2 separate regions of the Homo sapiens genome follow, and region 2 is linked to region 1. The links come from fine-mapping of genetic effects on plasma protein levels. A gene starts in region 1. The other region holds a variant in brackets. All regions are shown on one strand. Distances are from middle to middle.

Region 1 (8,000 bases):
TTTCGTGGGCAGAACTTGTTGACCTGTGAAAAATAAGACTCACAGAACATAACTTCATTCCAAGAACAGCTTCTACAACATACTCTCCTGTGATCGGCCATCTCTGCCAATGCTTGAGTCAATTGGACCACAAGTAATATTCAGCTAATCAGAACTCGGCAATCAGCACTCAAGAATCAACTAGAAATGGTTCTTGCTCCTGCTTCCTGCCTTTCTCCACCTGGGAAGATGTCCCCTGTGGACTAACTGCCTTACCCTGGCTCCCTTGCTATCCAGCTTCCTGCTGGGTGTGGCCAATGGGAGGCCCTGGCTGAAGATGAAAGCAGTGGGGAGAAAGAGGCGGGGGTGTTTCTTCCACACTCCCTCCATTCCTCACTGCGGTTCTGCCCATGGCTGTGTTTCTCCTGCTTGGGGACAGGGGTCCCCCTTTCATAGCACCAGCTTTCACTGGGCTCCAGAACATCACTTCCTCTTCTTTCCCTTTGGACATGTGAGTGGTAGTGGCTTCCTGTGGTTGGTGCTAGTCTCTGGGTGCTTTACCAGCCTTCCTAAACAGTCCCTGTATTAAACTCTCTTCAGTTGAACCCTTTCTGAGTGTGCCATCTGTTTCCTGCCAGGACCCTAACTAATACAAATCATAATGAGTGACTAATATAAAATAATAAGGTGTTAATCACTGCAAAGGTGTCTGGGTAGAGAGAACGTGACTAGGCCATTGCCAGGCCAGAGAACAGAAAGCAGGTGGTACAGACAACTCAATGTAGGCAATTTGCATATGGTTTTTTCCTTGGGACTGGCTGGCTCTGGAGCTACCACTGGAAGAATGGACAGATGGGCAGGGGATCTGGACCCAAGAAGGCTGTCACTGCCCCTGAGGAGGCAATGATTCCTCTGATATGCAGCTCTGGATCTTGGGGGTGGAGGGCATTGGGTGTTTGCTGAAACGGTTTCCAAAGCAGATAGGGTTGGCAGCCTTGAAAAGGAGCTGCGTGGCCTTGGGCAGGTCACATCCCCTCTCTGGACCTTTTCTGTCTGTTTAATAAAGGACCTGGCTTGATTTCTAAAGTTGTTTCTAGCTCAGGGAGTTTGGGAGGTGAGTTTGGGAATGTGGGAAATGTCAGCATCCCCTCCCCAACAGGGAGGCTGGAATTCAGCCCCTTTCCTGCAATGTGGTGCTCTTGTATTCTTGCCGGCAAGTAAGGGGACTCAGGAAGGCTCAAGGCTGGGCCCCTCACCAGTAGAGAGTACTCACAGCTGCCTCCAGGCCCTGCAGAGCCACAAGATGGACATGGTGGCTTTCCTTGACAGTCATCTTTATTCGAATATTTGGGGCCTTCACCACTATTTTTAATGAAAACAAGCACAAACACATGATGGAGTGTGCAGGCTGCAGGGGCTGGGAGTGGAGAGTTTGAACAGAGTTGGGCCTTGGAGCCCCTCCTGCTCTGAGACCAGGTCTGGGCTTGGGGAGGGAAGGTGGGTTTGACTTCCTCTGGTCTCGGAGGGAGGAGAAAGTCAGTGCTCCAAAGGCCCTCTCAGCTGAGCCCTTCCTGTCCTGCCCTGGTGTTGAGGAAACAGTGCTTGAGGTTTCTGGACCATGGTCCTTGGGCAATGCCTGTGTCTCACCCTGATGCAACCCCAGGAGGCTCAGTGGTGGGCAGTGTGGTAGGGAGAAAGGAAGTGAAAAGGGGGGAGGGAACTGGGCCCAGCTCAGAGGCTCTATCCCCCTGGGGAAGGGGTTGGCAGGGCAATTGCTCCCCTTTCTCTAATTCCAGGCCCTCCCCGGCTGCTAGGCCCTGGGGAAGAGGGAGTCTGGTTTCAAGGGTGTCCTGAGCAAAGCCAGTCCAGGAAGGGTTGAGATGGGGTGGTGCTCTAGGATCTTGCCCTTAAGGGACCCCCCTCACTTGCCAGAGGATGTCAGGGTGAGAAGGGCCCGGTGTCCACCTGATCTCAGTTGGCTTTGTACCTCCCCTGGTGGAAGGGAGCTCATGCTATGCCAGCAGGAAGGGCCCTGGGCTGCCTTCCAAGGTGGGGTCACAAGGCCAGGAGCATGCCCAAGGACCTGGGTTATGTCCTGCCAGCCTCTGGGGCTCCCATCCTGGGGAGTTCACTGGCTCCAGGGGGACTGGGCCTGCACAAGTTCACTTAGTAATAACATGATGCCTCAGCCTTCCTCTGTTGTAGCCTTCCCTGCCCTTAGAGCAAGGGCTAAGGGCCTCCAGAGAGCCCGTGACTTGGATCAGGCCACCCACAAGGCCCCCAGGACTCCTGGCTCCCATTGAGTCCTGATACCCTGGTTCCTGACCCAGTCAGACTCTGAGTGTCCTCTGCCTCTCAGCCTAGGAGTCACCTATTAACCCAAGATCCCTAAAGTGCCAGAAAAACCCCTGGAAGCTTCAGCTAGACTGGGGTAAACTGAGTAAAATGGCTGTGCTCTTCCACTCCTGTGATCCCTGGTCCTGGCCACGATCACCTCTGCTCCTCCATCACACAATCACTCACTCACTCATTGGTTTGTCCATTCAGATAAAAGTGCAGTAAAACCTTCTCCACGCCCAGCTTTGTGCTAGGGTCTCAGAAACATCAGAGAGAGGTTTGTAGTTTCGCTCTGGAGGGCAGAACAGCCGGAAGAAGAACCAACTGCTGGTTATCTCAGGCTGGAGGTGGTAGCTGAAGGGGGTGTGGACAGTAAGGATTTGCCGGGAAAAAGGAAGGGTCAGGACATTTCGTGAAGTGGGAGGACTTGAGCTGAGCCCTGAGGGATGAGAAGAATTAGGAGGGGAGAGACATTCCAGTGGTGCCAGCAGTGCTGGGTGTGGGTGCAAGAGCAGAGGCACTAGAAGTTAGGGTGCATCAGAGTGTCCTGCAGATATCCAGGCACCAGGGAGGGAGGGCGGGTGCACAGCCAGGCGGACAGCTGAGGCCTCTGCCGGAGGGGAGCTTGCAGGATGTGCTGTGGGGCACGCCAACAGGTGTTGCCTGCATATCTGTGTGTGTCCCGGGGTAGGGATGTGCTGATCTTGGCGTGTAGTCCTGCACCTGTTCTGTGTGTGTGTGTGTGTGTGTGTGTGTGTGTGTGTGTGCGCGCGCGCATGCACTCAGGGTGCCTCAGGCTCTGAATCTACAGTTAAACTGGCTCCAGCTTGCCTAGCTCTTCACAATGTCAGATTTCATTCATTCACTCATTTACTCACTCATTCCACAGCTGGGAGTGCCTACCACATACCAAGCCCTGGTCTGGCTGGAGGATGTAGGGTACAAGTCTCTGTCCCCAGATCACTCAAAGGCTGGTGGCTGAGGGCAGATGCAAGCCATGGTAACGTCTATCACGCTGTTAGAGGTAGATCTACTTCTTAGGCTGCGCAGCAATAATAATTTCTCTCCAAAAGGACTGGGGGACGGTAGAACGGGCTTTAAACTGCCGATCAAGTGGAGCTGACTCGCTGGGACGCACGCTGGCTCCCCACCCACGGGGCCGGCCTCCGGGAAGCCCCTCCCACGCGGCCCTCGGAGAGGCAGTTCCCCCACACGGCCCCCCGGGGGCGCTGCGCGAAGGGGGCGGGTGCCTGGAGCACGGCGCTGGGGCCGCCCGCAGCGCTCACTCGCTCGCACTCAGTCGCGGGAGGCTTCCCCGCGCCGGCCGCGTCCCGCCCGCTCCCCGGCACCAGAAGTTCCTCTGCGCGTCCGACGGCGACATGGGCGTCCCCACGGCCCTGGAGGCCGGCAGCTGGCGCTGGGGATCCCTGCTCTTCGCTCTCTTCCTGGCTGCGTCCCTAGGTAAGGTCGGGGGAGGCGGGGCGCTGGGAAAAAGCTGGGAGAAGACAGCAGACTGGAGTGGGAACTGTGGGATGGGGGCGTCCTGGGGGCCCTCTCAGCCTGTGTGACCGTGCACCCCACTCCACCCACCGCCCAGAGGCTGCTGGGACCCCTAGGCAGGGTGCAGTGGCAACTGTGCCAAGTGCCCCAGCTAGGCATCGGGCACATCTGCATGCTCTGACAGCTGCCCAAGTGGCAGGCAGGGCTGTCCCCTGAGGGCTGCCTGTCCAGCCCTTCCCTGCCCAGAGAACCCAGGGCACAGGTAGCTTCTGCAAAGAAGGAGAGGCACAGGGTGGGGGCGGTCAGTGTGTTCTGGTGGATATCACTGGCTTTTGACAGCTGGCATCTTTCTGCCCCTCTAGTCTCAGGGCTCTAGTGTTGCAGAGGACACAGAGGGCGTGGTATGCTCAGCCAGTGCCCCATGCCCTGGTGAAACCCCTGGCTGAGCCTTGGTGGGCACTGGGCACTGGTCACGGTGGGTCCACTTTCAGACACAGAGGCAGCACTGCCCACCTGGTCCCTATTCTAAGGGTCTGATGGCCCAGGAATAAGTGGTCAGCTGATTCCTGCCATCCTAGCAAGGCTGCCACTCAGGGACCAGTGTGGAGTACTGGGGAGGATGTGGGACACTCTTCAGCTCAGCTATGAGCCCCTTCTGGGTCCCTGGATAAATTACGGCATCTCTCTGGCCTCAGTTTCCTCAGCTCAAACACAGAAGCCCACACAGGGAAGCACCATTTTCCCCTTCCAAAGTCCAGACTGTCAGCATGTTCAGATAGTATCCTGGCCCCAACACAGGGGCTCCCGGGCTGGGGGCAGAGGCCCTGGTACCCATGGCCTGGTTGCCTAGTTCTTGCCTGCCCAGAGCTGAAGAGGCTGGATCTCTTCAAAGAGCCTGTGGAACCAAACTTTATAGGGAGGGCCCAGGGAAAGTATGAGTCATGCAGGGACTCGGAGGGAGGCAGGAGGGAGGTGGAGGGCTTGGCACAGGGACCCAGTGGGCAGGATGGAATAGAAGGAGAGGGTGATAGGATAAGAGGGAGAGGAGGAGGCTGAACCTGGAAGATACCTTAGCAACCTGGGTGCCCACAGGCAGCTGGCTATCTCAGCACTTGGAGGCTGGCCTGGGCCTCTGAGGAGGAGGAGGGCTCCACATGTCACAGACACAGCTGCCCTAAGCCCCAGGGTGGATGCTTCTCAAGGTGACAGTCAGAGGGAGGAGGAGAATGGGAGGTGGAATGGACAGTCTCAGCACCAAGGCCATGGCTCATGGCAGGGCATGGCTTCCAGAAGGAACAGAGGATGGTGGCAGGCAGGCAAGCCAGCATCCCACCTGTCATGGGCCACCTGCCCTGCACTGCCCTCCCTGGTGGCCCTGTGAGACCCTTCCTGCTTTCTTGCCCACTTCCTGCCCTCACTTGGCTGGGCTGCCCTCTGTTCAGCAGCCCCAATTTGAGAAACATTTCTAGAGATCCAGGGCACAGGGACCCAGCTTGCAGAGCACCCAGTAGCAGAGAGGCCCCAAGAGGAGCTCAGGACGCCTTCCCCTATATTGCTTATATGGCCAGGGGCCTTTACTCCCAGAGGTCTTGGCTACTCAAACAACATGGTATACTAAAGGGTCATCTCTTCCTGGGCCCAGCACAGGGAGATGATTTAGGCTGGCTGCAGCTTTCCACTGAAAGGAGCCAGAAGCATTTGAATTGCTCTGGGACCTCAGGATTCTGAACTGTGACATGGACACACTATAATAGATATTCACCCAACTCCCTAGGACAGTGTGCACTGAGGGAGATAGCAGATGGGAGGCCTGGTTGCAGGCATGGTCAGCAGGATCTGTAAGTTGAGAAGATTGATCACCAGCCTGCCGAGGTGCTGGGTTGCCCTGGGTATGTTGCCCAAGGTCAAAGCCTTTATGCCAGGGAAAGTGAGATAGAGTGGCCGGGGCCAGCCTGTTCTCCAGCTCTTGGGGTTGGGCCAGCACTGAGGAGAATGGTAGTGATGAATGTGGTGTTCAGAAGCCCAGGAAACACCAAAGATACCCCTTTCCTGGGCCTGACTCAGGGTGAGATGGGTGGAGAGGTACACTTAGGGACCAGGACCCAGCAGATCTCAAGGGTAGCAGAGCCTCTTCTTCCCCACAGACATTCCCAGGACCCGAGGCAGTTACTGTCCTTGCCCTGTCCTCACAGGCTGACTCAGGACTCCCAACCTCTGGGACTAGCACATTTAAGTGCACTGGGGCTAGGGACGAGAGACCCCATCTTCTCCTTCATAGCAAACCAGGCTGCAGGGCCTTGTTGAGTAACCCAGTGCTGCAAGCCTCTGACGCAGCAATGGTCAGCTCTTAGGAAATCCACAACCCACTGCCCAGAGGCTCTGGAGTAGAGAGGAACAGCCTTGAGGCCAGTCCCTGGCATGAGGGGTCATCTACCCAATGCCAGGGACACCCAAGGGCCAGCAATACTGGGAGTCCCTTGCTGAGCTGTACTAGTTGTTCATGCTTCCACCCAAGCAGGGCAAAGGTTCCGCTGGGGTCTGACCTTCCTGGGAGAGGGTGGTCCAGGCAGGAGTGTGCTGCTGAGACGCTAAAGGGGTCACCTCCCTATCCGCACACAGTGTATGGGGTGTTAGGCCTGAGCAGATGAAAGGAAGAAAGGGATCCTCAAGGAGAACCCGTTGGCAGTGAGCGAGCCCCACATACCAAACTTGAGGCCCCAGGCTTTAGCCAACCAATGACCCAGGGTCAGTCTGGTCTCCCAGGGGAGGGTGGGCCAGGGATCAGCACTGTGGCTTCCAGTGGCCCCACAGATGCCCTTAGCTGCAGTCCCAGCATGCCTGTATATGGCAAAGCCAGGGACATGCATGCCAGGGCTTCCGTACAGCCCCTTGCTTAACTCTTGGGCTTTGTGAGTCACTCAGACCTAGGCTTAAATCCCAAGATGGCCATTTACTGCTCTGTGATATTGGACAAGTTATTCAGTCTCCCTGAGCAAGTTCCCCTCCCTCTAAAGTGGGAAGATGATACCACCTCCCTTGGAGGGCAACTGTGAAGAGCCAATGAACGAACACTTAACACAGCACCCGGCTCCTCGTGAATACTGTGTAATATTATGGTATTTCTTGGCTTCTGCAGGCCACATGCCATTGGCTTTCTATCTAAGCTGCTTGCTCTCTACAGGGCCTAATGGAGTGCCCAGGGCCTGGGAAGGCATTGGTGAGCTTCACTGGGACTAGATTCTCCAAAGCCTGGAGTATGAAGGGTGCATGGGCTGCGTCCAGCTACCTGTGAGCCCCTGTAGGCCCTCACAGTCTGAAATGCCCATGGAGGTGCCTACAGGTTCTCTTCTTAAAGTTGTCAGGAGATGGGGACATTGCAACTTGAAGGCAAGCCTGGCCCTGGGTTTGCTTATCTTGGTGGATCTTTCTTACATCTGATCTTTTTACATTCGGTCCATTCACTTTGGCTGGCCATCACCAAAGACAAAGACAGTGGCCACCATCTTTCTCATCAGTAATCCAATAATGAGGTTGCTCTGCTACTTACCAAGCCAAGCAAGCCCATTCCTTTAGCCTTTCTGCGTAGGATCTTATTTCCCATGGGGACCTGGGGTCAAACCCTGCCTCTGCTGTTCACTCATCATGGGAACACAAACACACACTTCCCCTTTGTCTGTGCAATGGACAGGTTGGGTGACGTGGTCTCAGTGAGGCTGACCACCCTCCTCTGAAGGTTAATTCCATGATGGTGTTTCCCTAGCTTCAGTCATTTGCTTATCACCTTTGTGATCTCTGCAGTGTCTGCCTTTCATAATATTTACTTATTTTTTTCTTTAAATCTACTCATTCTTTTATTTGAGTATGTAGATCTTTAAAAGGAAACTTTTTATCGCTGTCATTAGTGGAAAGCCAGTATCACTTGTCATAAATAGAACAAAACCATAAAAGAACGTAACAGGAAAACCATATAAGGGTATTGAATTCTAGTTGGAAACTTTAGCCTGGGAAGGCTCGGAGTCTGAAAACTGCTGCTTTCCCTTGCAAAAAATTAAAATAAAATAAAATTTAAAAAGAAAAGGAGATTAGCAAATGTTTTAGAGACATATTAGCATCAAACTGAGACTTTCTCTTTGATGTAATCAGGACTGAAATAATTGTAAAGGGAATAACCTCTTCTATATATG
Region 2 (3,687 bases), 49 kb before region 1:
CCTGTAATTCAGCCCTTGAGGTTTTGGGGGTCTCATCTCCCCTTCGGGGTCCAGTAAAATGAAGCCAGCAGAGCCTTGTGCTCTGGTCACAGTCCACATACAGCATACGTACATGCAGGCCACCAGTGTGACAATGGGGAACCATGGGTGGCCCAGGAGGTGCCTCAGCCTCCTTCAACGTAGGCCAGTTAGGAAGTCCAGTGTAGGTCTGGCTTCCCCAGGGCACCTTGTGTCTGTCACAACGCAAGTAGGCATTGCATGTCTTTAGTGCTGTTTTTCATAAACACAGAAATGCTTCTGCTGCATGAGCAAACATTTGCAGACAGCCAGCAGACTGTTCCTGGCTGTTGGATCCAGAGAATTGGAAACAATCTCTTGATTGTGGCTTCTGCCCCTCTGGGTAACAGGGTCCTTTGGGATCTAGAGCCACATCAGATGGCATGCTACAAGAACCAAATGCCCAGTCCATACTTGCTCTGAGCCAGTGTCCTTCGGGGCCGTCCTGAACACTGCCACCTCTGAGCGTTGGCATCCATCTGCTAGGATTAGCATTGGAGCTTTTTTTGAAGGTATTTTGAAGTCTAATGGGAGAGGACTTTGGTTGAAATACCTGAATTTTTACCTAGGCCTCCTCAAGGAGTTGGAACAAAGCTGATCGAGGCAGAAGCAGCCCTATACCTCCTGAATATTGGCGTCTTTTTTTTTTTTCTAAAAAGCTTGCTGTATCTTCAGCTGCGTTCTTATTATTTATTTATTTATTTATTTATTTTTCATTCTTAAGGTGTGGCAGAGACAGGGTATTTGGGATATACTTTTCAGACTCCCCCGGTCTTATTAATTCTCGAACCTTCTTGATATTAAAACAAGATGAGCCATAGTCATGGTCTAGCTCTTTTCCCTTAACAGGTCCTGTTTTTAGCACTTTTGTTCCTGCTGCTTTAGGGTTTGGTGCTGGAAGGCAAATGCACTCAGGCTCAGAGCTAGTTGCTGGTTGCATTTATTTCCACAATATACAGAGTCTATACACTTGTCTCACTCTTGGCCATCAGAGTGTCATGGTCAGGATGTCTAGACTATCTAGTGCTCTGTGTTTGGTGTCTAAATGGTGAAAGGGGATCAATCTGGAGACCTTGTGGCTTAAAATGATTCATCCATTTGGCGGGTTGGGTTTTCATGTGCACTGTGTGCAGCTTGAACATAGAATGTGGTTTTTTAAAAAGCCAGCATTTCCCCTTAATGCATCATTTTAAATGGTCCTGCCGCTGAAAAATCTGGTGTGGTTTTATTTCTAACACATTTGGCTTTCTGTTAGTTTATGGGCATGGTAGTTCCCCCTCTAGAAAAAAGCATAGCTTAGTTCCTACCTAGAGTGACCTGAAAAGACACATTCTAGAACAGACCAGGTGTCCTTGGAGATGTGGAAGGTGCTGGGGAGTCTCCCTCGTGGTGGCCCTGGATGGAGACTCTGTTTGATGTTCCTTAGGAGCTTTGTGTGGTCTCCTCCCCGAGATGTAACTGGCACATATGCACTGCTTCAGACACGAGCCCTTTAACATGGAAACTGGAATCTGCCCCGTTGTGGGAGGGGGAGAGGGAGGTAGCCTTGACCTGGGCCCAGGGTGCTGTCCAGCTCCCTGTCCTCTGGCTGGATTGGGACTGAGGAGCAGTGGGCGTAGGCTTGCTGCTGACTGGTTGTTCTGTGCTCTCTTCAGCAACCCAAGGAGATCTGTGCGCTGGTTGGGTTCTGTGATGAGGTGAAAGAGATGCCCATGCAGACTCTGGTCCCCGCCAAAGTGGCCTCCAAGAATGTCATCCCTGCCCTGGAACTGGTGGAGCCCATTAAGGTACCTGGTGTCACTTTGTGTCCTGGTCAGG[G/T]CTGTGCAATGCCACACTACTCCCTGCTGTGTCACATCACATCTTACGAGTCACTTGTTTCTTTCGGTTCCCTGCCTGGCTCCTAAAGGTCTTTGAGTTTGTGATCACTGGTTTATCCTATCCCCTATACTAATGCAGCCCCCGACCCTGAGTTCTTTTGAAAACATTTTATTTCCTTGGTTGTAAACCCTAATGTTCGTGGGATCATTAGCCTGTGTATTTTCAGCATGCCATTCAAAGGTGACTTTGCAGTGCCTGGCTTCAGCCTCACCTTCTCACATGCACTGTCTGGGTCCTTCCCCATCCTGTGGCCCTGACAGACTGGATGTTCCCAGCACACCCCTCAGAGTGTACGGAAGCCTCACTGGGCCTGCAGCCTGTATACTAAGTACATGTGGGTGTCTATTTTATTTAACTAAAACACCTCACTTGGTGAAGATTAGACTACTTCATCCCATAATAAATTTGTATTTGGCATTTATTATGGGTCAGGCAGCATGTTAGGGGCTGTGGTGAACAGATGATGTCATTGTGCCCGTGGGGCTTACATTCTAGTTCTTCAAGGCCTGGGCTGTGTGATGCCTTAACACGTGGCACATGTACACGCTTCTTGTTCTAGAACATCCCACGGCACTTGACTGCCAGCTGTTGGTCTCTCTCTGCTGTCTCCTCTCTGCATGTGCAGAGTGTGTGACCCAGGGGCCAGGCCGAAGTGTCAGCTGGAATCCAGGAAGCACTGCTTCTTGCCTTCCTCTCCACCGGGTGCTCCTCAGCTCCAGCCTGCTGACCAAAGTGACGGCCAGAGAAAGTGAAGAGTTATAGCTCGCACTCCAACCACATGTGACTACTTAAATTTTAATGAAATACCATGGAGCAAAATTAAAAATTCAGCCCCTTGGCTACACCAGCCACATTGCAGGTGCTCAGTGCACAGGTAGCTGGAGCTTATAGTGGACAGCAGAGATAGAGAACATTTCCATTGCCACAGAACATCCTCTGTAACAGTATTGCCTTATTAAAGGTGGGTTCCAGAAGAGCATTCTCAAGTGCTAATGAGACATGGGAGACACACGAGCAGACCTGAAGTGTGTTCAACATTCTGTCTTCTAGATAGTGGACCGATAGTGAGCCCCTCACTTTGCTTTTGGTCCTTCATCCTCCTCCCCAAAATGAACCCTGAATGATGAAATGATTGTAACCGAACACATCATCAGGACAGCTCTTCGGGGTGGGGAAGGGACTTTCTGTCTCCTGAACTGTGAATTCCTGGGTTTTGTTTTGGTGGGGTTAGGGGGAGGTGGGGGTGGTAGAGGATTGGGGAAGGGGGTGAATGTAAAAATAGGGAATTAACTTGGATATTAGAAGCCACACGCCATTTGGAATTCAGGAGGCAGTGGCCCTTGATGTGCTAACCCACCCTGGTCTCTGTGTCCCCTTTCCTTTAGGGGAGCAAGACCAAGGGCTGTGAGTCCCAGCATTGAAAGTACTCTCCTTCTACTCTTTCCACAGAAGCACGAGGTCCCAGCAAAGTCTGATGTTTACTGTGAGGTGTGTGAATTCCTGGTGAAGGAGGTGACCAAGCTGATTGACAACAACAAGACTGAGGTATGCTGTCCTCCTGGCAGAGGGAGGGCCTCTCCTGCCCCCCCGAGCCTGAATGTCCCAGTGGGAAAGTCCCACAGGAGAGAGGGCTTGGCCCAGCCTTGACATGTGTACAGCCATGTCCCCATCTCGTGGAAGGCAATCCTCACCAGTGGGACCTCTAGGCTGGCGGGGGTCCGGGGAGGTGGACACCATTGCCCTGCTTTGTAG

Direction of the effects. Alleles are on the strand shown, and positions count from the first base shown. The strength of an association depends on the size of the effect and on how common the allele is.
For the plasma level of the protein whose gene starts at base 3,615 in region 1, allele T in region 2 goes with a higher level than allele G (weak association).

The links. A credible set is the group of variants that fine-mapping cannot tell apart. PIP is the posterior inclusion probability: the model's chance that the variant is causal. The UK Biobank Pharma Proteomics Project read protein levels with antibody pairs (Olink). The fine-mapping took linkage between variants from a reference panel, not from the people measured, so its PIPs are less certain.
Region 2: its variant is the best candidate, but not a certain one, in a credible set for the plasma level of the VSIR protein (UK Biobank, PIP 0.71).

Annotation. Positions count from the first base shown.
Region 1 is chr10:71,769,135-71,777,134 of GRCh38, reverse strand. VSIR (V-set immunoregulatory receptor) reads left to right here and starts at 3,615. Exons shown (of 7, transcript NM_022153.2): 1 at 3,615-3,777. The coding sequence starts at 3,696. The region is part of intron 38 of CDH23 (cadherin related 23); the gene reads right to left. RefSeq lists silencers at 3,386-3,715, 3,736-3,815.
Region 2 is chr10:71,820,033-71,823,719 of GRCh38, reverse strand. It overlaps PSAP (prosaposin), which reads left to right. Exons shown (of 14, transcript NM_002778.4): 8 at 1,713-1,844; 9 at 3,385-3,480. Among named protein-coding and RNA genes, the nearest start is that of PSAP, 29 kb to the left of the region's middle. The variant G/T (reference allele first, on the strand shown) is at 1,876.